Homo sapiens: one gene and its partners. The protein of the gene in region 1 purifies or fractionates together with the protein of each later gene. This does not show direct contact. Each region holds a gene or a part of one and is shown on either strand. Other genes may lie near its edges.

Region 1 (3,500 bases):
CATCCTGTCTGCTCCCTCATGGCTGCCTGGGAAGGGATGTGTCGGTGGGGGGGTCTGGAGAGTGCTTCCTCCTCAAGGCAACGGTAAGGGTCCTGACTTCCCGTCTCTCCGATCTGCTCCGTTGGCCGGCAGGAAACTTTGCTGCCCTGACACTAGCCTGGCTCTTGAGGGGTCCTTGTGGGGTCCTGGACTGTCCACTGCTCTTGCCTTCTCTGTGCATGCCTGGGGGCTATGCAGGGGGAGGGGCAGCACCCAAAATAAGGAACGCTGCGGCCTTTTCCCCAGCCTGTGGTCAGTGGTCCCCAAGCTGCCTTCAGGGTCCAGGGCCTCAGTGCAGCACAGAGGAGGGTCCCCTGGGTCCCCCACTGGGAGGACATGATAACCTTGGTCCTCTTCTGGGCACTCATGGTCTGGGGAAAAGATGGGGGCATCGTGGACTCAGGATAGGCTGTCAGGAGCTGAGGAGGGGCTGGAGAAGGGGGTTAGGGCGAGGAGAGGTTCCTGTCCCTGCAAGATCAGGAGAGGGGGTCACTAACCCCACAGCCAGGTGGGTCCAGCCCGAGAGTCCGTGACTTAGTAGCTGAGGACTTGCTCTAGGGTCAGAGGGCACATGGCAGGAGAGTCACCCCGGCTGAACGAGGCTCTGCATCTTACCGAAGCCGCTCTACGGGTGCCAGGCACTGGCTCTGGAGCGAGTGCCCAGGCGGAGCAGAGCGCTGGGAGGAGGGTCCGTGGGGAGCCCCTGCCAGGTGGGTGTGGCTTAGCCCAGCTGTGGGCAGTCGCACTCAGGGACGAGCTCCAGGTGGGGAGCCTGGGACCCACAGCCAGTATGCAGCTTGGGGAGCACCCGGGAGGGGCTGTGGCCACCGGACCCCCTGGGGTGGGGCTGGCCAGGGGAGGGTTAGCCAGGGAGGACTGTCATGGGAGGGGCCTTGCAGGTGAGCCAGGGGCCAAGGGGAGCCTCAGGAGGGAAACAGCATGAGGAGTGGGGGAGCCCAGGAGCTTCCGGTGGGACATGTGGAGCTCTGCTGTGGAAGTAGACCAGGGATATCTCGGGTGGCTGGGGTCCCTGGCTGCCGGGACAGGGTAAATGCCTCCCAGAAGCCTGGGGTGAGCCCTGAGGGACAAGGTCTCTGGAGCCAGTCTGGCTGGAGAAGGGACAATTCTGTGTGCCCACCCCTCCCCTCACACTGGGTGGTGTGGGAGGTGGGTCCATCTCCTGCTCTGTAGGAGATAAGGACATTGAACCCCACCCTGGGCCCTCTGGTAGCCAAGGCCTCACCCTAGTGAGGGGGATGGATGGAGGGAGCTTGAGCCTAGCTGACCTCTCCCCATCTGACTCCGACCCCACCTCCCAGGGCACAGGATGGCGTCTGGGCAGCCCCTAGTCTTCAGAAGCTACCCCTGAGACCACAGGGTCCCACCTTGTATGGGAACCCCATCCTGGAGACAAAGGCCCCTCCGAGCTCCCCAGGTCGGGGAGGGCCACGCCCCTCACCACCCCTGCCCGGACACCGCCTGAGGTGCACCTGCTGCTGGGCCACACCTGGACTCAGCTCTACTGAGGACTTCCTTTCCTCAGTTTCTCACCTGGCCCTGCCAGATCTTCCTGGCCCTGCCCAGCCAAGGCCCCTCCCCCAGTCAACAACCCTCAGAAAGGCTCCTCCCCCCTTCTCTGCCTAGGGAGCCACATTCCTGGCATAACTAAGACAGGTATGTGTCCCTCCCTCTGCGCCACCTTTGGGCGGGGGAGGCCCGCTGCTCCCTCCGGAAGGAGACCCCCGCCCCTGCTTTGTCAGGGAAGTGGCCTGGCCTCCGCAGTGCCAGCTGCCCAGGGCTGGCGGCTGAGCGGGCGACTCCTCCGGCCCTCGCCACCCTGTCCTGTCTGGGCACTGCCCATGCCCTCCCAGCCCACCTCACAAAGGCTGGTCCTAGAGCCTCCCTGAAGCCCCCAGGAGGGACTCCTGGCTGAGGGCCGGCCAGGCCGCCCGGGGCCCATCCCTCCCTGCTAGGAGCCAGGAGCAGAGAAAGGGAGTGTTGTCTGCCCCTGCCGGGGCCTGGCACAGGGACAGGGCAGGGGGCCAGGGTCAGAGTGAGTCTGGCGCCTTCCCAGCCCGGCCCTGCCCAGCTCTGAAGCCCGGGGTCCCGGCGGCCTAGTCCCGGGCCCGCCTGTATTCCGGCGTGTGCACCCTCCCTTCCTCCCTGCCTGGCCAGCTGCCTAGGCCTCAGGACGGCAGTCCTAGGGGAAGCCCAGAGTCCCACGGCACCGGGGACAGCATCGGTGCTGGGGTTGAGGGGCCCGACAGCCCCAGACCAGGCTCCCCTCAGTGTGGGGCAGTCTAGGAGTTGGGGGAGGTTTCTGGGATGCAGGAGGACCTCCCATAGGGCTGGGGCCAGCCCCCTCTCCTGCCCAGGGCTCAGCTCCTGCCCCCAACTCCTCCGCATTCCTGCCACCCTCTCCTGCCCCCTCCTGACTCCAGGTTCTCATCCTGCCCCCTGGTTCCCCCACCCCCACCCCATGAGCCCCTCTCTGGCCCTCCCCCAGGCAGGTCTGGGCTCGAGGCTGCTGCCCCAATCTCCCTCCTGCAGCTGGGAGGGGGTCTGCCGGGTGGGAGGGCGGAGGGCCTACCTCTGTCCCTCCCCACTCACCTCTGTGTCTCCCCACCCAGGGGCTCCTGGTAGGAAGTTGGGGCCCCACCTCTGTTTCTCCTGGAGCTGGGAGGGGGGTCTGCCGGGTGAAGGGCCCACCTCTGTCCATCCCAACCCCGGGGCTCCTGGTGGGAAGTCGGGGCTCGGTGCTTCCCGCCTGCGTGAATGGACTTGTCCCGTCTTTGACTTCTCCTGGGCTTGCCCCTGCCTTGGCCTGGGGGGGGGCTTTGCTGGCTGAAACCAAAGGGAGTGAGGTGGTGGGAGGGGTAGGGGAATCGGGTTGGTCAGTTCTGTGGAGATGACCTCTTTGAGAGGGCCGGGCTGAGCTGGTGGAAGGAACTCTTGGCTTTTTCCAGACCCCACCCCACTCCCTCACTCCCCACCCAGAGAACAGCCCTGGCTCCATTGTTCCTGCAGACTAGAGAGGGAAGGTTGTTTTGGAACTGGGCTCGCTCCCGCTTGTCCACACTGGCCGCTCTGGTGGGGCCTCTGTGGGTGGTGGTGGGGATGGCACCTGCTGCAGCCTCCAGGCCAAGGTAGGGGAGAAGGAGGTTAGGGTGAGGACAGGTTCCTGTCCCTGCAAGATCAGGAGAGGGAATCATTAGCCCCACAGCCTGCAGAAGGCGGGATGGGGCTGCTCCAGGGAAGGGGGTGCCCGTGCCTCGGGGCCACAGGTCCGGCCAGAGGTCATTCCAGCCAGGCCCATGCAGCTTCCTTCCTGAAGGGCTGACTCTGCCCCCATCACTGCAGGAGGGTGGAAAACAACTGCAGAAGCAGACGCCCCACGCCCAGGGCTTTGCTTCCACCTGTGGGACCCAGGTCCACAGCCCCACCAGCGGCCTGGGTGGGGC
Region 2 (3,500 bases), on another chromosome or scaffold:
TGTGGTTTCAAATTTGATGGCTAGGCTGGACGCAGTGGCTCACACCTGTAATCCCAGTACTTTGGAAGGCCGAGGTGGGTAGATCACCTGAGGTCAGGAGTTCAAGACCAGGCTGACCAACATAGTGAAACCCCATCTCTACTAAAAATACAAAATTAGCCAGGCGTAGTGGCACATGCCTGTAATCCCAGCTACTCGGGAGGCTGAGGTAAGAGAATCACTTGAACCCAAGAAGCGGAGGTTGGTATAACTGAAATACCACATCTCTGAATATAACTATATACATGTTCACACCACCACTATAGAAAAACGTCAAAAACTTAATTTGGATATTTTTATTTATTTATTTATCTTTGAGACAGACTCTCACTCTGTCATCCAGGCTGGAGTGCAGCGACGCGATCTCGGCTCACTGCAACCTCCGCCTCCCGGGTTCAAGCGATTCTCCTGCCTTAGCCTCCTGAGTGAGCTGAGATTGGGCCACTGTACTCCAGCCTGGGCAACAAGAGTGAAACTCCATTGAAAAAAAAAAATTGATGGCTAAACTATATTTGTGCAAAATGAAAAGCAATGATAATATTTACGCATAGTTGTTACCAAAATATTCTTGTAGAAGTAGATCAACCTCAAGGGGAGATGTGAATGATCAGGATGCAATCCAGGAGAAATTTTACCCACCACGTTTCATTCAAGTGCCAGAGAACATGTCGATTGATGAAGGAAGATTCTGCAGAATGGACTTCAAAGTAAGAGAAGGGTTCAAAAGTACTGGGGGAAAATTAACAATGGGATACTAAGTTTTGAAAAATGTTCTTTTCCTACTTCATAGCTTGCAAAGCAGTACGTACAATGGACAAGAACACAAATTCTGAAGTCAAACTGATGTGGGTTTGAATTCTGGCTCTGCCATCCTCCAGCTAAGCAACCTTAGACAAGTCATTTAACCTCTCTGTGCTTTTGTCTCCTCATCTGTAAAATGGGATAACAAATACCCCAAAAAATTATGAGGATTAATTGAGTGGATAGGTATACCTAATAAATACTTTTATAAGTGAAGCTATCAGAACAATATAATTTTTAAAGTACAATGCCCTTTTTTTTTTTTTTGAGACAGGGTCTTGCTCTGTCACCCAGGCTGGAGTGCAATGGCACAATCGCAGCTCACTGCAACCTGTCTCCCAGGCTCAAGCCATCATCCCAACTCAGCCTCCCTAGTAGCTGAAACTACAGACGCGTGCCACCATGCCCAGCTAGTCTAGAACTCCTGGGTTCAAGGCGATCCACTCACCTTGGCTTCCCAAAGTGCTGGGATTACAGGCGTGAGCCACTGTGCCCAGCCTTAAAGTATAATGTCTCTCCAATTCTCCTCTATCAAGAAATTCAAGCCACCCTGCTTTCTCTTGGCCTAAAAGAGTCCCTCAGACTAGAAAAGCTCTTTAGAAGAGGTTATATTTTTATTATCCTTATTTTGGAGAACTTTTCCTTATAAAATTTTTTTTCCAGATTCCTTATGAACTCAAGTTAGTGTTAAAGCTTTGGATTCCACTGTTAACAGTTTATGTAAAAACACTTAACAAATTGCCATTTATATGCCAAACTATAGCTCAAGAACACTCTGTTTTAGAAAAATTACGCATTAGATCAGGAAGCCTCATATATATGTGCCTCTGGGACTTCATTTGCAGTCACATTTAGCCAGAAAAGCAATGACTTCTATATTCCTTATGGAAACCAATGTAACATAAATTAATGTTCTAAATATAGAAATTAAGAGTTCATAAAGAGACTGAGGTTGCATGTAAAAGAGTTATGGTTTGAGACAGTCTAAAAATACTATGTTAATTTCAAGGATCTTATTTCCAATGTTTTGTTTAAAAAATTATAAATACTTTTGAGCTCTTGCTTTGCATTTCAATCGCAAACCCACTCAGATACGGGAACTGTTTAAATTCATATATGGACAAATAGGTTTCAGTGATGCAATACTTTAAAATTCTGCCATCTCCTTGTGTTTTTCTTTCTAGGTGAGTGGACTGCCAGCTCCTGATGTGTCATGGTATCTAAATGGAAGAACAGTTCAATCAGATGATTTGCACAAAATGATAGTGTCTGAGAAGGGTCTTCATTCACTCATCTTTGAAGTAGTCAGAGCTTCAGATGCAGGGGCTTATGCATGTGTTGCCAAGAATAGAGCAGGAGAAGCCACCTTCACTGTGCAGCTGGATGTCCTTGGTAAGCCTCCAAAGAGACCCTTGAGAATTCCTTAAAATCCAGAAGTATTGAAAAAAAGAAAGTATTTTAAAAGAAAAGCCCAGCAGACTTCATATTTAAGGTTAATGTCTATACAACCTATTGGAATGTCCATTTTTATCTACAAACCACAGGAAAAAATATATATATATACACACACATACATACATATATAGATATGTGAAGGAAAGTCAGTGAAACTAGAATGACAGATCTATCACCAAAGCTTTTCTGGAAAGAAAATAAATCATACAATTTTAGACAAACCAAATAATGAAGCATAAGCATTTCTAGACGTAACTATAGAGTCTCAAAATGAAAATCTTAGTCTAATCATTTCTCTGGTCTTTGTTTCTCCAAAATGAGGATAATAAAAATAACCAATCTGACTCACAGTATTACAGAATTATCATAATCTGTCAAACGTTAAATACATAGTTTAAAAGTGAAGAGTAGGCTGGGTATAGTGACTCAGGCCTGTAATCCCAACACTTTAAGAGGCGCCAAGGTGGAAGGATCACTTGAGCCAAGGAGTTTGAGACCAGCCAGGGTAACAAATAGCAAGATCTTCTTTGTCTCTACAAAAAATAAAAAAATTAGCTGGGCATAGTGGTGCACACCTATAGTCCCAGCTACTAGAGAGGCTAAGGCAGGAGGATAACTTGAGCCTGGAGTTTGAGGTTTCAGTGAGCTATGATTGCACCACTGTACTCCGGCCTGGGTGACACAGTCAGACCTTGTTTAAAAAAATTTCTTAAAAAATCAAGAGTAAATATCAACTTTTAGCCTTAGACTATGTCCTTTTTACTAGGAAACTAATGTCTAATTATAACCAAAACAGGCCTACTTGCTTTAGAAAACAGGTATGGCTACATTTATGTCTCAAATCTGTCTTAAGTAGAGCAGTTCTTATAAAACTGGTGTCTGGTTTTTAAATTTTACACTTTAAGTGCTTTAAATATACAAGTTGAGTATCCCTAATCCAAAAATCTGAAATCTTTAAGATGCTCCAAAATCGACATGACACACAAAGGAAGTGTTCATTAGAGCATTCTGGATTTTCAGGTTAAGAATGCTCAACAAGTATAACGCTAATATTCTAAAATAAAAAAAAAATCAGAAATCCAAAACACTTCTGGTCCCAAGCATTTCAGATAATGGATACTCAACCCATACCATATTTTTAATACTTTAAGCCATTGTATATTGCATAAGAGATATTTTGCTATAATTCACTATTTATTATACAG
Region 3 (2,582 bases), on another chromosome or scaffold:
AGGGAGGGCGTGTTGCTGAGGATGGCGCTGCGCCATGCTGGGTCACCCTCATGTGAGATGACCAGCCGCTCCTCGTTGGCCGCAATGGCATCGTATAGGGCTGCTGGCTCCTCATATTCATCTGGGGACGTGAAGTGGTCCTGGTAGAGAAGACGGGAACAGGGGTCAGTGGCCCCTGCCCTGGAGAGAGGCTTCATCCCCCACCTGCCCATGCTGCTGGGCACACCCCTCCCCAACCTGGTGAAGCTTGAGGGCCATGCGAACCCCAGGCGCCACAACGCGGTGAAGCAGGTCCATGTCGGCAAAGACCCACTCGTCACGTGGGGAGGTGATGCGAAAATCCCCCTTGAACAGGGCGTGCAGGCCGTAGAGGAAGGGCTCCAGGCTAAGTGGGAGGAAAAACAGGGAGGGGAGAGAGGGGTGTCGAGGACCCAGGGGTAAGGCTTCAGAGTGATCCAAGCAGAGGCCTTTCCTCACGCTGAGCCTCAGTTTCCCCATCTTGACAAAGAGGCCAATCTCTGCCCATGTCTCTCACAGAGCACTGAGGAGCAGGCAAGGTCATGACCAGGAAGTGCCCTGCCCGTGGGAGAAGAGGTACCCCAACAGGAAGGGCCACTGCAGTTTCTGTGGCCACTGTGGCCAGAGACCACAGTGCTCTTCGTGGAAGAGGTGGGGTGGGGACGGCAGTAGGCCCCGCGGGACACCCGAGCACTCACCTTGCAGACATGCTGTGAGAGGCTGTCCCCAGGGCCCGGCGGCCCAGCACACACAGGCCAAAACACAGCGTGACCAGCGGGGAGTTCCAATCCTGGTCCACGGGCTGTGGCATAAGGACCCCCATCCCAGAGCCCAGCTCAGACCTGGGACAGGGACCTTGGAGTGGGGGCTGGGGCTCAGGCTAAGGGAGGCTCAGAGTGAGAGGAAACCAAATGGGGAGAAGGGGAGCAGGGAAGCCCAGGTCCCACAGCCCCAGGTGGCAGCCTCAGGTAGTGGAGCCTGACCTGGCTGCGCCGGGAGGCGCAGTACTGGATCCACTCGAGGTGCACAGCACAAAAGGAGGGCAGCGAGAGGCCAGACAGGCGGAGGTCATAGTCCTCATCCACACTCAGCGAGAAGGTGGGATCCGAGTCGGCATAGCCGGGCACCCGCACAGGCCTCAGGGCTGCCGTGATGCCCTCATGGCTGAGCCACACCTCCAGCTTTGGTGAGCGGCTCACGTAGTAGATGATGCTCTGGGAGAGGAGGGGCAGGCGTCAGGCCGGGGTCCCGGCCCTGGCCACTGGAGGAGAAAGCATGGAGGTTCAGAGGCTCCTCCCCAAGACTGAGCTGAAGTCCGCTTTCTGGGATGCCCCGCTCCTAGAGCCATCTCAGCTCTCAAGAGCAACCAAGCAAGTTGGCTCCTTCCCCTAGACCAGGGAGGAGTGACAAAGCCGCCAGGAAGCACCCACTTACAGAGCAGGAAGTCCTGTGCTGGGGCTAGCACTCACAAGCAGCATCTGCCTGCCTCTGCCCTAGAATATGCCCCGTTTGTATGAGAAATTGAGGCTCAAACAAATGGCAGCCCCCAACGAGAACAAGATCATCACACTCAACATTTACCACCTCAGCTTCCAAGTCATCAAGGTGGAGCTGGCCCCACCTGCCCTGAACCCTGTCCCCCACCCGCCTCTGGCTGGCCCCGACACTATGGTGTGGCCCTCAGGTGAACCTTCAGTGCCTGTGCAGCACGTGGGCCAGGTAGCAGCAGGAGCTGGTGTTCCTGCACAAACATAACCCCGAGCGCGGGAGCATCCAGATGTCACATGGGCAGGGGGCGGGGAGCGAGTGGGGCAGAACAGACTGAACTGCCGCCTGAACCCCGGACCTTCCCCATCATGACATTGTGGGATCCAGATCTCGGGGCCGGAAGGGCAGGCTGAAGTAGTGGGCCTGCCTCAGAGTGCCTGGGTCACAGGTCCCTTTAGGCAGCTGAAGCATGACAGCCATCAGGCCTCGCCTCAGAAAAAAGCCACGGGCACATGTGGTACCCAAAGCTGGGGGCTCCTGGACCTCTTGTTAAAAGGCCCTGTTGGGCAAAAGTACAGGAGCTTTGGAAGACAGGTAGCTGGCATGGCCAGGATGCACGGGCGGGTTAAGGCCGGCAGGGCAGCCAGTGAGGTGATGGGGATTCCATGTGCCACCCTAAGATGGAGCTAATGGGGCAGGCCCTTTGCCAGGGCAGACCCGCTCCAGACTGACTTTCTTGCCCATAGCTCGCCTCTACAATCCAGGCACCACCAGAGCTGCTAAAAAGACCCAGAAAAGAAAAGCTTCAGCCAGACAGGGTGGCTCACACCTGTAATCCCAGAACTTCGGGAGGTGGAGGTGGGAGGATCGCTTGAACCCAGGAGTTCAAGACCAGCCTGGACAACATGGCGAAACCCCATCTCTACAAAAAATACAAAAATTAGCCAGGCATGGTGGTGCATGCCTGTAGTCCCAGCTACCTGGGAGGCTGAGGTAGGAGGATTACTTGAACCTGGGAGGTGGACACTGCAGTGAACCCAGATGGCACCACTGCACTCCAGCCTGGGTGACAGAAT
Region 4 (3,500 bases), on another chromosome or scaffold:
TCCCAGTAGAACCGGTAACATGGCAAAAAGCATCGGCTTAGAATTTTGACTGGAAACAGTTGTGCGTGTGTTGGAGGACCTAGTTCTTGATTCAGGGGAAAGCTGGTTCTTTACAAAGTTGAAAATCACAGTGGCTCACACCTGTAATCCCCAAACTTTGGGAGGCCAAGGCATGCAGATTGCTTCAGGTCAGGAGTTTGAGACCAGCCCAGGCAACATGGGGAATCCCCATCTTTACAAGAAATACAAAACTTAGCTGAGTGTGATGGTGCGTGCCTGTAATCCTAGCTATGTGGGGTGGGGGCTGTGATGGGACGATGTCTGAGATGGGAGCCTGGGAGGTTGAGTGAGCTGAGATTGCGCCACTGCGCTCCAGCTTGGGTGACAGAGGAAGACCCTGTCTCAAAAAAAAAAAAAAAGAAAAAGAAAGAAAATTTCTACCTTATTTTGTGCTTGGCTCCTTATTCATGTGTCTTGGTTTCTTTTTTTTCACTGACAATACTAGTAGCTGATCAAGATATGCAGATTCAAATTCTTTCTTTTGTATTTAGTGATGTCATGTGTAATCACTGTGAAACACGGTTTCTCAACTCCGGCACTATGACACTTTGGGCTAGATGATTCTTTGTGGTGTGGGGCTGTCCTGTTCATTGTAGACTTTTGTCAGCATCCCTGCCCTGTACCTGCTAGATGCCCATAGCAGACTTCTCCTTCCCCATTCTTATTTGTGGCAACCAAAAATGTCTCCATATCTTGCCAGATGTCTTAAGGGACAAAATCACTTCAGCCTGAACCACTGCTGTAAAGATTCAAACAATAAATAAATATATGACTTAAGTAGTGAAAGACCCTCCTCCATTTGTTTTGGGGGGAGGACTCTCCATAGGTTCTAGTTATCTACTCAAATGATTGTCACCCCCACACATTTTATTTATTTATTTCAATAGCTTTGGGGTACAAGTCGTTTGTGGTTACATGGATGAATTCTATAGTGGTGAATTCTGAGACCACCTCCCCCGCCCCCATTTCTAAAAGGGCAGGCAAGTGTGTGGTGTGGACAGAAGACCGAGGGCTGGGGCTGTTCTGGGCCACTTATGCCTTGTCTTAGGTGTGGTGTGAAGAGGGCAAAGCCCCACCCCAGGACCCCAGGAGCAGAAAGAGCCTCAGCGGGGTCTTGTTCTTCTTTCTCTGGGTCACGCTGAGAGGGGAAGGGCAGGTTGAGGGGCCCACTGCTGGGTTCTGGGTTAACTCTCAGGCAGCTGGAGTGTCCACTGACCACACGCTTTCCTGATTCCATTCCTGCTTCCCCCTTACCACATGGAAATGTGCACACACACTCACACTCACTCTCTCTCACACTGATCAGAAAGTATTGACATTCAACTCAGACTGATTCTACTCAGATACTCATTTAAGCCTCAAGTCATTTAAAACAACATGTTTCTCCTCAAACTTGTGCTTGCGGCTCATTCAATATAGATTTAAAAAATTCCTATAATCACTAGTCTAGGGGACTTCAGCTGTGGGCAAGACAAAGTTCCTGCCCTCAGGGAGCTTACTGTCTAGGGCTTTTACAACTAAAACTTGTGATGACTGCTATGAAGAATGAGAATGGGGCTCGGTGACAGAATTCAGAGCTACGGGCTTGTTTTGGAGTTTTGTAACACTTGCGTTAGGAGAGAGTTGGGCACAGGAAACGGGTAGAAGGCTGCTCCCAGGAGGGGTGATGTGGCTCCGACCTGGCAGGCAACAGTGGAGATGAACATCTCCTGTGGCAATGAAACTTTTTGACTATGGGGAAAGGCTGGTGAGTGCCACCAGCTTCCGAATCCCCCTTACAGAAAGGGGTCAGAGTTTGTCCCCTGTGGCCGACCTGTGAGCTTAAAGCAAATGGTCGTCTTTGAGCATAACAACAGAAAGACACTCATTTGTGGTTTTCCCATCAGGTGTGGATGGTGCCTTTTTATGTTTCAGGCTCTCTGTTGCCTCCCAGAGAGCCAAATGCCGGCTTTTCCAGAACCCCAGAACTTTCCCAGGCAGAGATATTTAGTGAAGTGTTGGTTGGTTTTCTAAGCATCAGGCTTCTTAGCTAAGGCAACCTATGGGGGTACTGCCGGGAAACAGTCGGCTACCTGCCACCTTCTAATTTGCTTTCATGGTAATTCTGGGTGCTTAAATATTAGCCTAGTTTTTCCTGGCCTGGTTAAAAACCCGGAGTGGAGTTATTTTTAACAACGTGTCCTGTCTTACCCGTAATGGCATGTTGATTTCCTGTGGTAGGCCAGCTGTGGTTGGTTGGTGGCGGCTCCCTAGACCACTGGATTGACTGGGGTTCAGAGTGCATGAGGAAGAAGATCTGGCATGAGGGAATGGTGACATGTGTCTGGGCATGGAACAGGGGAGTGGCGGATAATGCTTGGGGTCTGCCATCTTGGACAGTTTATCTTACCCGGGTTTGTTGGTTTTTGGCTACTCTCATGCTGAGCTCAGACAACTTCTAGTGGAGGCTCTGACTTAAAGATTGGCCTCAGAGGTAGTCCCTTGCCATCAGCTGTTGACATTGAAATCCTCAACTGTCACTCTCTAAAGTAAAGCCCCCTTTTGTTCCTCTCACCCCAGTGTGGAGGCCTGTGCTTGTTTGCCAGGGCCAGCCATTTATTTCACGTAGCTAAAGACCTGGATGCCGTTGAAACCCAGCTGTTGTTAGAAAGCCAGGGACTCAATTCTTTGTGTGTCTTGGCTGTCTACCATCTCTAATTCTACAAAGTATAAATTCTCTGGGATGCAAAGCAGAGATCCCTCAGCTTTCACGGCAGTCATTAACTTTGCCAGATACCATGGGGAGCACCAGGACTCCCATGCGAGGCAGAGGTGCACGTAGCCCCTTGGTGATGGGCGTGGTAGCCTGAGGCATGCTGCCGTTCGCTGGATGGGGAGGTCCCCCTCCACAGTGGAGTCCATGAGTGTCCTTGGCCTAGCCCTTGTTTCTCTGTTTAGCACTTCTCTAGCAAATCACTATCTCCTCTCCTCGACTCCTCTGTGCTTCATCTTTAAAACTGACACCCTCAAGGAGTCAGAGGCCCTCAGGGTCCCCCGGGGGGTCAGCCATGTAGCAGGAGCTCAGCTTACACTCAGGAAGACGGCAAGGCTTCACCAGGTGGCCGAGTGACCGAGAAGGCTGAGTGTGGTCAGAAGGTGCCAGCTGCATTGGAGGGAGAGGAGTCTGGGGGACACACAGGAGCCATGTGTGGGGGACAGGGCTGGATGTGGGCTGCAGGGCCTGCCCATCTCTCTCCGTTCTGTTGTTCCACCACTTGGCTTCCTCCTTCAGTTGCTCCAGCAGCCTGTCTCCTCCCTCGCCTCTAGGCTCCTGCATGTGCTGAGGCCTCTCTACTTGAAGCACCTCTCTGTCTGCTCCCTCTTGTGCCGCAACTGAGATGTTACTGGAAAGCTTTCTCTGGTCTCCCGCAGACCAGGTTAATTGCCTCCTGAGTGCTCCA
Region 5 (3,500 bases), about 54 Mb from region 1:
ACCCCCATGCCCGGCTAATTTTGTGTTTTCAGTAGAGATGGGGTTTCTCCGTGTTGGTCAGGCTAGTCTTGAACTCCCGACCTCAGGTGATCCGCCTGCCTCGGCCTCCCAGAGTGCTGGGATTACAGGCGTGAGACACCACATCCGGCCAAGAATACTATTTTTAAACATTGCTTTACTGTGTTTCACATATTGGAGGATCACCTTGTGTTTTTCCCCATAGGTTGATTTGTTTCTAAGAGAGAAATTCTCTGTTCCATGGCCTAGATCTTACCCAGTACCCACTTTTGATTTCAGAGACTTGTTATGATTGTAAGGGGACTAGAAAAAAGGGTGGATGGCTGAATACAAGCTAGTCTCACTTCACTAGAAATGTCCACATCCTAATAGTGAACCTGATTTTTATAAGCATTTAAGTGCTCTTTCATGTTCCCTTTCTACCACATTCAGAAATTGCTACTTTTCCTTTAAAAACATTTAATTTTTGTTATATAGATTTTCAAGATGTGGAATAAAGAACTTTATGTGAGAGAACAGCAGGATGCATATGAATTCTTTACTAGTCTCATTGATCAGATGGATGAATACCTCAAGGTAGTAAAAGTTGTACTTTCCCTCTAACTCCCTCAAACTCTAATTATAGTATGAGAATAGTGTCTTAGCATTTGGGGTTACTATGAAACTGACGAATCAGAAATTGATTATCTTTAACATAAGAACTATAATGTATTCTGTGTTTAAACATCAAAACATAACACAGATCAATAGAATTGTATATTTTCTCTTTTTTTTCTTTTCTTTTTTTTTGAGACAGAGTCTCGCTCTGTCACCCAGAGTGGAGTGCAGTGGCACAATCTCAGCTCACTGCAACCTCTACCTTCCAGGTACAAGAGATTCTTGCACCTCAGCCTCCCGAGTAGCTGGGATCACAGGTGTGCACCACCACGCCCGGCTAATTTTTGTACTTTTTGGCAGAGATTGGGTTTCGCCATGTTGGCCAGGCTGGTCTCAAACTCCTGGCCTCCAGAGATTCACCCACCTCAGCCTCCCAAAGTGCTGGGATTACAGGCTTGAGGTACCATGCCTGGCCTAGAATTGCATATTTTCTTAATTCATCTAACGCTCAGTAAAGTATGTAACTCTTAATCTCTACTACATAGTAATAACCATTCCTACCTACATATTCTTTCTGTGTGTCTACTGAAATAATCTGGCCTCAGAAGAGTGCTGCAGTCACTGGTGAGCTGATGGCCCTGTGCAGAGCAGAGAGTGCTCTGGCACAGGGGAGAAAGGAGCCAGATTAAAAAGTTATTCGTGGTGCTGTTGAAACCCAAAGCTCTCTACCTCTACCCTGTAAGCCATGTGGCAGACTTCCTAAACGGTATTGCCTTCTCAGATCCCGCTGTCACTGCCAGCATTGGCCTCTCATCAGTAGGCACAATTCTTCCATTTTTTAAAGTAACTTGCAAATTGATGGCATTCTATCCACAAGAAAAAAGAAAAGATTGCTGAGAGTTGCCCCTAACTTGGTCCTTGTAGCACAGGGAGAAGGATTCAGAATCACCCTGGAGAACACTCTCTTGTCATTAGCTCTACCTGACCCATCCCTCCTCCTCTTCCTCTTCTGATCGTCTGCATCACTCTGACAGTGGGGCCAATAATGGGTTTAGCCTCCATTCACCACAGCTGATACTACCAGAATGACGCGTTTTGTTTTGGTCCTTAAATTGCAATGTGTTAATAAAATTCTGTATACTCATAAGTTCAGGAGGCATCACTTAAAACTGTAACTTTTCATTCCAACAGAAAATGGGGAGAGACCAAATTTTTAAGAATACATTTCAGGGCATCTACTCTGATCAGAAGATCTGTAAAGACTGTCCTCACAGGTGAGTGAAGATATCACCGACACAGGAAAAATGATCATCCTTTTGAAGTGATTTGTTTAGTATGTTGTAAATTTTGCATTTGTTAAGAGACTTAGAACTCTCTCCCTGTCAACAGATCTATAAGTATTTAGTGACTTAAATTTCTTTGCTTTCTACTTCCAGAAGGAGAAAAAATTTCTTTGTGGGCTTAAGAAAATATTCATTGAAATTCATAATTTTAGGCAATTCTTAATTGTCACAAAGTGGCATTTTAACTTAGTAATGGACTTTTAAAATATTGAGGGACTCCCAGATTAAAAATGTAGTTCTGTGTTCAAGCTTAGGTATTATGATAATTGAAGAGTTTTAAATTCCATTGTTGATTGTGGGTTTTCTGTTATTTCCTAATCAGATATGAGCGTGAAGAAGCTTTCATGGCTCTCAATCTAGGAGTGACTTCTTGTCAGAGTTTGGAAATTTCTTTGGACCAATTTGTTAGAGGAGAAGTTCTAGAAGGAAGTAATGCGTACTACTGTGAAAAGTGTAAAGAAAAGGTATTATGTTTGCCCTTTTTAAAAAACAAGATTAATTTGTTATTCGCATAGTGCGTCTTTGTTTTATGTAAAATCAGTATTAAGCTCCTACTGTTATTTCCATTAGATTGTGTCATTACTTGTTTTCACATGGATCAGAAAGGCCTTTGCATTAATTACTGTGCTGTTTTATTTTCTCCATGGAGATCATTCAGATTTGCTCTTTTTCCTTTTTTTTTTCTTTAGAGAATAACAGTGAAAAGGACCTGTATTAAATCTTTACCTAGCGTCTTGGTAATTCACCTAATGAGATTTGGGTTTGACTGGGAAAGCGGACGCTCCATTAAATATGATGAACAAATAAGGGTAACTTTTTTTCTTCCTGAAATTTTTCACAACCATTCATTTCCTCACTCACTTCTTTTTTTTTCCTTTTTCAATTTTCATATTCTGTCTACCATGTTAAGGCTGTTGTCTCAGCATTATGAAGAGCCCCTTATCTTAGGCAGCTGCTGTTACCGGAATAGGCAGATCTGGAAACAGTGGCCCTCATTTCTAGAAGGCATCCTAGTGATTACTATGAAGGAAAATGCCTTCCTTAGGGCTCAAACCAGAGGCTACTTTAGACGTTCCCAGACTTAACATTTCTGAGATTTTATACTTGAACTGGTGAGGTAGTTGTTCCTAGCTTAAACTAGGAAAACACTTCCTCTTATTTGGATCTCACTTAACTGGGTACTGCTGTATATGTTAGTAATCAACGTTAATATGGTCTTTTTGCTTCTACATAGTTTCCCTGGATGCTAAACATGGAGCCTTACACAGTTTCAGGAATGGCTCGCCAAGATTCTTCTTCTGAAGTTGGGGAAAATGGGCGAAGTGTGGATCAGGGCGGTGGAGGATCCCCACGAAAAAAGGTTGCCCTCACAGAAAACTATGAACTTGTCGGTGTCATCGTACACAGTGGGCAGGCACACGCAGGCCACTACTATTCCTTCATTAAGGACAGGCGGTAAGAGTTTCCTGAGGCAGCACTTACTCACTTTCTGCCCTCCCCTGCTCTCCGTTATCATCCATACTCACCGCTGTGGTGCAGGGA
Region 6 (3,500 bases), on another chromosome or scaffold:
TCTGACATTTTCAACACCCTTTGTTACTTCTATCTTCACTGGTGAGCTGTGGATTATTTTATCATCTGGATGCTTAGAACTCTGAGCAAGTCATGTTCTAGAACTATGAGACTAAACAATGAAGAACTTTGCACTGGTAATATCAAAGTACTGAAAGTGTGTGGTTTTAAAGTGTGAAAAACATGGCAGTTAAGATCTCTCAGGTACTTTGAACCATAATGCAGTTTTCCTTCTCTTCAAAACCTCTACTTCTAAATGGCATTCATTGTGTTTTCTAGTGTTTTTTCTTTGGTATGACACTAGTTAACCTGTATTTCTTACCATAAAGCTAGGACTCAAATACTAAGAGGTTTGACTCACCTTAGGTGGAACTTTATATAGTACTTTAACTTAGAAATATTTGGAATCAATTTCTGCTTATAAAGGTATCAAAAGCAAGTGATACTAAAACGAGTAGGTTCAAAGTTGTATACTAAATAGAGACCTTGGTAAGAGAGAATGAGGGATTTTCAAATATGGTCCAGAAGATAGTCTCTGAAAGGCTAAACCAGCAATGGTTACTAGCCATGCAGGAAGCCAGTGCTGTCTAATCTTACAAATTCTGTTTTCCTGCCAAATGGCATTTAGGAGCAACTGATAATTTATTTCTTGCCACTTGCCGTTACTGGAGATTTATTTGGTTTCTCAACTCAGCCCTTAACAAGAAAGCAAGTCTTTGTTGAGGGCACAATATTATCAGTATGGCAAAGCTAAGACGAGGCTTCTGTGTGACACTGGAAAGACCAACAAGAATGGATTAAAGAGAGTGATTTTCCATATGCTGTCACTGGGACAGGTACTTTTCTCTGTAGACACACAGGCTAAAAGCAGTTTAAAAGCTTCCTTACCTAAACAGTACATAGTTCAAGGAGATAGGCCCTGTGTCCATTGCGTCTCTAGTTTTTGTTTCTAACCCATTATATAAAGAAACATCCCAGTTTGCTTTTTAGAGAAAAGTTCAAGTTAGAACCATTCTCTGGTCTTGCTAAGTCTCTTAATTGTGACACAACTGTCCTAAGCAACTGTCCTTGCACAAGAATGTCACTCATCTGCTTCATCTGCCAGCTCCTTAGAGATGAGGGGGGTCTGTGTGTCAGCAGGAGGCAGAAGGCCCTGTGGCTCATCCAGTGGCCTGATTTCCTTTGTTTGGAGGCTTGGTTCTGAGTGAGAGTTCAACAGCCTTTGCCCAGGCGGCTTCTCAAACACAGGGTGTGGTTTCCTTAGCTCACTCTCTGCTGTTTGGTTGCTCATGGCAACAAGATCCAAATAACTTGGACATGTGTTTGTATAAAAAAAACCTGGGAATGGAACCCAAAGTGAGACTTTGGGGCTTTCAGTTAGTGGAAGAGCTGCGGTGAGTACCAGGCAACTGCTCATTTATTTTCTCTCATTCTTTCTCTCTAAATTACGCTGGAAGTTTGCTAGCACAATAACCATGTTTGTGGATAGTTTTAGAAAGTAGTCTCAATTCTTGTATTTCCTGCACAAATGAAATAATTGCTATCTATTTACCCGTGCAAATTTCTTTTTCGGGGGAGAGGAACAAATTAGCATATGTTTAAAGAAGTTGAAAGCTAATAGAAACTCATATTTGGTACCTTTTGGGTGGCAGGATTCTATAGGAAATGCCTTGGCAAAGGGAGCTGCAGAGTGCCTTAGTAATGCTTGGGATTGCAGGCGTGTTGTCTAGGGCCACAGCCGGGGAGGGGACCAGGGAGGGAAGAGGGGTTGTTCATACGGAGGGAGTGGAAGGGATTCTTGGAATAATTTTTTCCAGACTCTATTTTAAGATTATAATTTTTAAGACAGCAAATATCCCAAATGGTAATACTGGTTACACTTCTATGAGCATATTGATTCTCACTTGCTTGACTCAAGGGAGGGTTTGATTTTGGTCACAAAGCCACCCGTGACTATGACAGATAATTCAAGGTTGCCAAACTTGCCTGTGCCAATTGACAAAGCCATTTATATAAGTCCTCTCTTGCTATATTGCTCTGGCCTCAAAAGGCAGTAAACTCTCTTGGACAAAACTCTTTAGGATCTATTCAGGGATTTAACACTTTTCTGCTAAATTGCAAGTAAATTTAAACATTTTAAACAAATTAACAAGGATTGCTTAGGTACCTGGTGTGGTACAGAATGAGCTGTCAGTTTCTATTCTGATGAATAGAATTTTATAGATAGGAGGAACGGGAGGCCTCCAGAGGATACTACCCTCCCTAAAAAGAGACGGAGGAAGAGCTGAAAGCGGGCAGAGAGGCTTCTTGATGACAACGTGGTGGGCTTAGAGAAGCTGCTGCCTGCAGGCGGGGCCCCTGCTTTCCTGCACCCCTTTGAGCCTCTGCCCCACACTCTTCCTTTGTATAAAACAACTGCTTCTTGCCTGCCTGCCCCATCACACCCCTCCACTCCATCGGGTCACTGCTCAATGGCACAATAGCACTGCTCAGCCATACCTCCCAGCATCCTGTCCCCTATCTGGTGACTTGGCCAACACAGGCTCTGATCCACTTGCCCCGCTCCGCATCTTTTGTGAATCAGCACAGTTGATATATCTGAGCAGGGGCTTCTACCATCTCCCCAGGGAATCACTAGCCATCGGCCATCTGGCCCCGCGGGGTGCTTTTGTTCCTGGAATCATAGTGAAGTATCTGTTGTCTTGGTGCCTGGTAGTCAGCTCGGCTGAAGGGGAAGCTGGGTCTTGGTCCTCAGACCCCATGGACTCCAAGGCAGCATTGTGCAGGTGCCTCTGGGAGCCACTGCTCAGGGTGCTGGGGCATTTCCTGTGGTCATTTGTCCTGTCTGCTTGCCCCCGCAGGTCCCTCCAGCTACAAGGTGGGCACCATGGCGGAGAAGTTTGACTGCCACTACTGCAGGGATCCCTTGCAGGGGAAGAAGTATGTGCAAAAGGATGGCCACCACTGCTGCCTGAAATGCTTTGACAAGTTCTGTGCCAACACCTGTGTGGAATGCCGCAAGCCCATCGGTGCGGACTCCAAGGTAACGGGCATCCCCATGTGCCAATGGGAAGGGCTGGGTTTTGGAGTGTCCTTTGCCCACAACCATGGCAGCAGCAGCTGGCTGTTAGGATTTCCCAGCATCACTGCAGCCACCTTGAGGCCTCAAGGAAGCCTCCTCCACTCCCCAGGCCACAGTGGCCCGAGCTGTTTAATGTGGGGCTTGACTGGATGGGCGCCAGCGCCCTTGCCAGCTCTTTTGATTGCATTCTAAATATTTCAAGAATTGTGAGATTTTTATCCTCACCTCAGCGTCCCTCCTATAAGAATAGTCACTGTGGGGCAGTCCCAGGTGTAAGGGACTGTGTCATCTCAGTGGTCAGTCCCAGGGAAATCAGCCTTATGGGAGGGCTCCTGCCACCACCCCCAGCACCCCTCATGGTGGCCCACCCTGTCTGCTTGGTTTCCAGGAGGTGCACTATAAGAACCGCTTCTGGCATG
Region 7 (2,767 bases), on another chromosome or scaffold:
GAGGAGGGTCTCTGGCCTGCTGTGCTGTTCTTTGTTTTTTTTCTGAGACAGAGTCTCACTCTGTCATCCAGGCTGGAGTGCAGTGGCGCAAACATGGCTCACTGCAGCCTCGACCTCCTGGGTTCAAGCAACCCTCCCACCTCAACCTCCCGAACAGGTGGGACCACAGACACGCACCATAACGGCCAGCTAATTTTTTTTTGAGATGGAGTCTTGCTCTGTCACCAGGCTGGAGTGCAGTGGTGCGATCTGAGCTCACTGCAACCTCTACCTCCCGGGGTCAAGCGATTCTCCTACCTCAGCCTCCCAAGTAGCTGAGATTACAGGCATGCGCAACCATGCCCAGCTAATTTTTGTATTTTTAGTAGAGATGGGGTTTCACCATGCTGGTCAGGCCGGTCTCGAACTCCTGGCCTCGTGATCTGCCCGCCTCGGCCTCCCAAAGTACTGGGATTACAGACGTGAGCCACTGTGCCCAGCCTACGCCCAGCTAATTTTAAAATTTTTCAGTAGCACTGGGGTCTCACTATGTTGCCCTGGCTGGTCTTGAACTCCTGAACTCAAGTGATCCTTTGGCCTCGGCCTCCCAAAGTGCTGGGATTATAGGCATAAGCCACCACGCCCGACTCAACGTTTAATTTTGGATGAACCGCCAGACTGTTTTCCACAGCAGCTGCTTGACGCTAGCCAGTCTAATGGGTGTGAGGTGGGATCTCATTGTGGTTTTGATTTCCATGTCCCTAATGATTAGTGATGTTGCATCTTTTCATATGCCTATTGGCCATTTGTCTGTCTTCTTTGGAGAAATGTCTATTCAATTCCTTTGCTCATTTTAAAATTTTGTTTTACTTTTTAGAGACAGGGTCTCGGTCTGTTACCCATGCTGGAGTGTAGTGCAAACACAGCTCATTATAGCCTCAACTTCCTGGGCTCAAGTGATCCTCCCAGCTCAGCCTCCCAAGTAGCTGGGACTACACAGGTGCATGCCATCGTGCCTGGCCAATTGTTTAATGTTTTGTAGAGATGGAGTCTCACTATGTTGCCCAGGCTGATCTTGAACTCCCAGCCTCAAGCGATTCTCTCGCCTTGGCCTCCCAAACTGTTGGGATTACAGGCATGAGCCACCATACCTAGCCCCCTTTGCCCATTTTTAAATTGAGTTGTTTTCCGTTGCTGAGTTTTAGGAGTTTTTTAAATCATTCTGGACATTAATCCTTTAGCAGATAAATGGCTTGCAAATATTTCCTCCCATTCTGTGAGCTGCCTTTTTATTCTTTTGATAGTGCCCTTTGATGCACAAAAGTTTTAAATTCTCATGAAGTCCATTTTGTCTATTTTTTTCTTTTGTTGTCTGCACTTTTGATGTCAGACCCAATAAATGATTGCCACATCGATTTTTTTTCTTTTTTCTTTTTCTTTTTTTTTTTTTTCAGATGAGTCTGGCTCTGTTGCCCAGGCTGCAGCATGGGAGCACTATCTTGGCTCACTGCAACCTCCGCCTCCCGGGTTCAAGCGATTCTCCTGCCTCAGCCTTCCTGAGTAGCTGCGATTACAGGCACCCACCACCACACCTGGCTAATTTTTTTTGTGTTTTTAGTAGACACGGGGTTTCACCACGTTGGCCAGGCTGGTTTCAAACTCCTGACCTCAAGTGATCTGCCCGCCTCGGCCTCCCAGAGTACTAAGATTATAGATGTGAGTCACCATGCCTGGTCAAATCCAACAGTGAGAAGCTTCTACCCCATGTTTTCTTCCAGGAGTTTTAAGTTTTCCATTTCACATTTAGGTCCATTTGGAGGTAATTTTTGTATGTGGTGAAAAGATCCAGTGTCATTCTCTTGCATGTGGAAGCCCAGCTTTCCCAGCACCATTTGTTGAAAAGACTATCCTTTCCCCATTGAATGTTTGGAACGCTTGTTGAAGATCATTTCAGCATACATGTGATGATTTATTTCCGGGCCTCTATTGTATTCCATTGGTCTATATGTCTGTCTTTATGCCAGTGCCACGCTGTTTTGATTACTGTAGCTTTGTAGTAAGTTTTGAAATCTGGAAGTGTGAGTCCTCTATCTTGATTCTTCTATTTCATGATTGTTTAATCTCCTTTTCACATTGTTCATTGTTCATGTATAGAAATTCAACTGTGTTTTGCCTGTGGACTTTGTACCTTGCTTCTTTGCTGAATTCGTTTATTATTATTTTTTGAGATGGAGTCTCACTCTGTCGCCCAGGCTGGAGTGCAGTGGCACAATCTCAGCTCACTGCAACCTCCACTTCCTGGGTTCAAGCAGTTCTCCTGCCTCTGCCTCCCGAGTAGCTGGGATTACAGGCACCTGCCACCACGCCCAGCTAATTTTTGTATTTTTAGTAAGAGACAGGGTTTCGCCATGTTGGCTAGGCTGGTCTTGAACTCCTGACCTCAAGTGATCTGCCTGCCTCAGCCTCCCAAAGTGCTGGGATTACAGGCGTGAGCCACTGCACCCCCAGGCCTGATTTTTTACATTATTGTTCATAAAGTCTGTTGAACTGGCATTTTCTTGTAGAATTAAATATCTGTGCCTGGCTTTGGTATTAAGACAATTCTGGTCTTATAAAATGAGTTAGGAAGTGTTCCTTCCTCTTCAGTTCCTCGGAAAAGTTTGAGAAAGGCTGATGTTAGTTCTCTAAATGTTTAGTGGCTTCCCCAGGGCTTTTCTTTGTTGGGAGGTCGTAAGTTACTGATTCATTCTCCTTGCTAGCTACAGGTATGTGCTGATTTTCTATTTTT

The links.
Region 2: the proteins of AGRN (region 1) and MYOT purify together in Homo sapiens (affinity purification with mass spectrometry, with the first as the bait; one large-scale study listed by BioGRID). This does not show direct contact.
Region 3: the proteins of AGRN (region 1) and PCNX3 purify together in Homo sapiens (affinity purification with mass spectrometry, with the first as the bait; one large-scale study listed by BioGRID). This does not show direct contact.
Region 4: the proteins of AGRN (region 1) and FLNB purify together in Homo sapiens (affinity purification with mass spectrometry, with the first as the bait; one large-scale study listed by BioGRID). This does not show direct contact.
Region 5: the proteins of AGRN (region 1) and USP24 purify together in Homo sapiens (affinity purification with mass spectrometry, with the first as the bait; one large-scale study listed by BioGRID). This does not show direct contact.
Region 6: the proteins of AGRN (region 1) and FHL1 purify together in Homo sapiens (affinity purification with mass spectrometry, with the first as the bait; one large-scale study listed by BioGRID). This does not show direct contact.
Region 7: the proteins of AGRN (region 1) and MAP1S purify together in Homo sapiens (affinity purification with mass spectrometry, with the first as the bait; one large-scale study listed by BioGRID). This does not show direct contact.

Annotation. Positions count from the first base shown.
Region 1 is NC_000001.11:1,023,120-1,026,619, forward strand, and holds part of AGRN (agrin isoform 2 precursor), read left to right. Parts: intron 1-3,500. UniProt on the Homo sapiens protein: Isoform 1, isoform 4 and isoform 5: neuron-specific (z+) isoforms that contain C-terminal insertions of 8-19 AA are potent activators of AChR clustering.
Region 2 is NC_000005.10:137,881,360-137,884,859, forward strand, and holds part of MYOT (myotilin), read left to right. Parts: exon of another isoform or gene 1-613; coding exon 614-746; exon of another isoform or gene 747-2,024; coding exon 2,025-2,232; exon of another isoform or gene 2,233-2,262; intron 2,263-3,500. UniProt on the Homo sapiens protein: Component of a complex of multiple actin cross-linking proteins. Involved in the control of myofibril assembly and stability at the Z lines in muscle cells.
Region 3 is NC_000011.10:65,632,776-65,635,357, reverse strand, and holds part of PCNX3 (pecanex-like protein 3), read right to left. Parts: intron 1,280-2,582; coding exon of another isoform or gene 1,233-1,279; coding exon 1,002-1,232; intron 821-1,001; coding exon 717-820; intron 386-716; coding exon 238-385; intron 141-237; coding exon 1-140.
Region 4 is NC_000003.12:58,126,922-58,130,421, forward strand, and holds part of FLNB (filamin-B), read left to right. Parts: intron 1-3,500. UniProt on the Homo sapiens protein: Connects cell membrane constituents to the actin cytoskeleton. May promote orthogonal branching of actin filaments and links actin filaments to membrane glycoproteins. Anchors various transmembrane proteins to the actin cytoskeleton.
Region 5 is NC_000001.11:55,096,865-55,100,364, reverse strand, and holds part of USP24 (ubiquitin carboxyl-terminal hydrolase 24), read left to right. Parts: intron 1-495; coding exon 496-594; intron 595-1,806; coding exon 1,807-1,889; intron 1,890-2,280; coding exon 2,281-2,422; intron 2,423-2,647; coding exon 2,648-2,767; intron 2,768-3,192; coding exon 3,193-3,413; intron 3,414-3,500. UniProt on the Homo sapiens protein: Ubiquitin-specific protease that regulates cell survival in various contexts through modulating the protein stability of some of its substrates including DDB2, MCL1 or TP53.
Region 6 is NC_000023.11:136,203,547-136,207,046, forward strand, and holds part of FHL1 (four and a half LIM domains protein 1), read left to right. Parts: intron 1-1,355; exon of another isoform or gene 1,356-1,393; intron 1,394-2,860; coding exon 2,861-3,042; intron 3,043-3,469; coding exon 3,470-3,500.
Region 7 is NC_000019.10:17,729,480-17,732,246, forward strand, and holds part of MAP1S (microtubule-associated protein 1S), read left to right. Parts: intron 1-2,767. UniProt on the Homo sapiens protein: Microtubule-associated protein that mediates aggregation of mitochondria resulting in cell death and genomic destruction (MAGD). Plays a role in anchoring the microtubule organizing center to the centrosomes. Binds to DNA. Plays a role in apoptosis.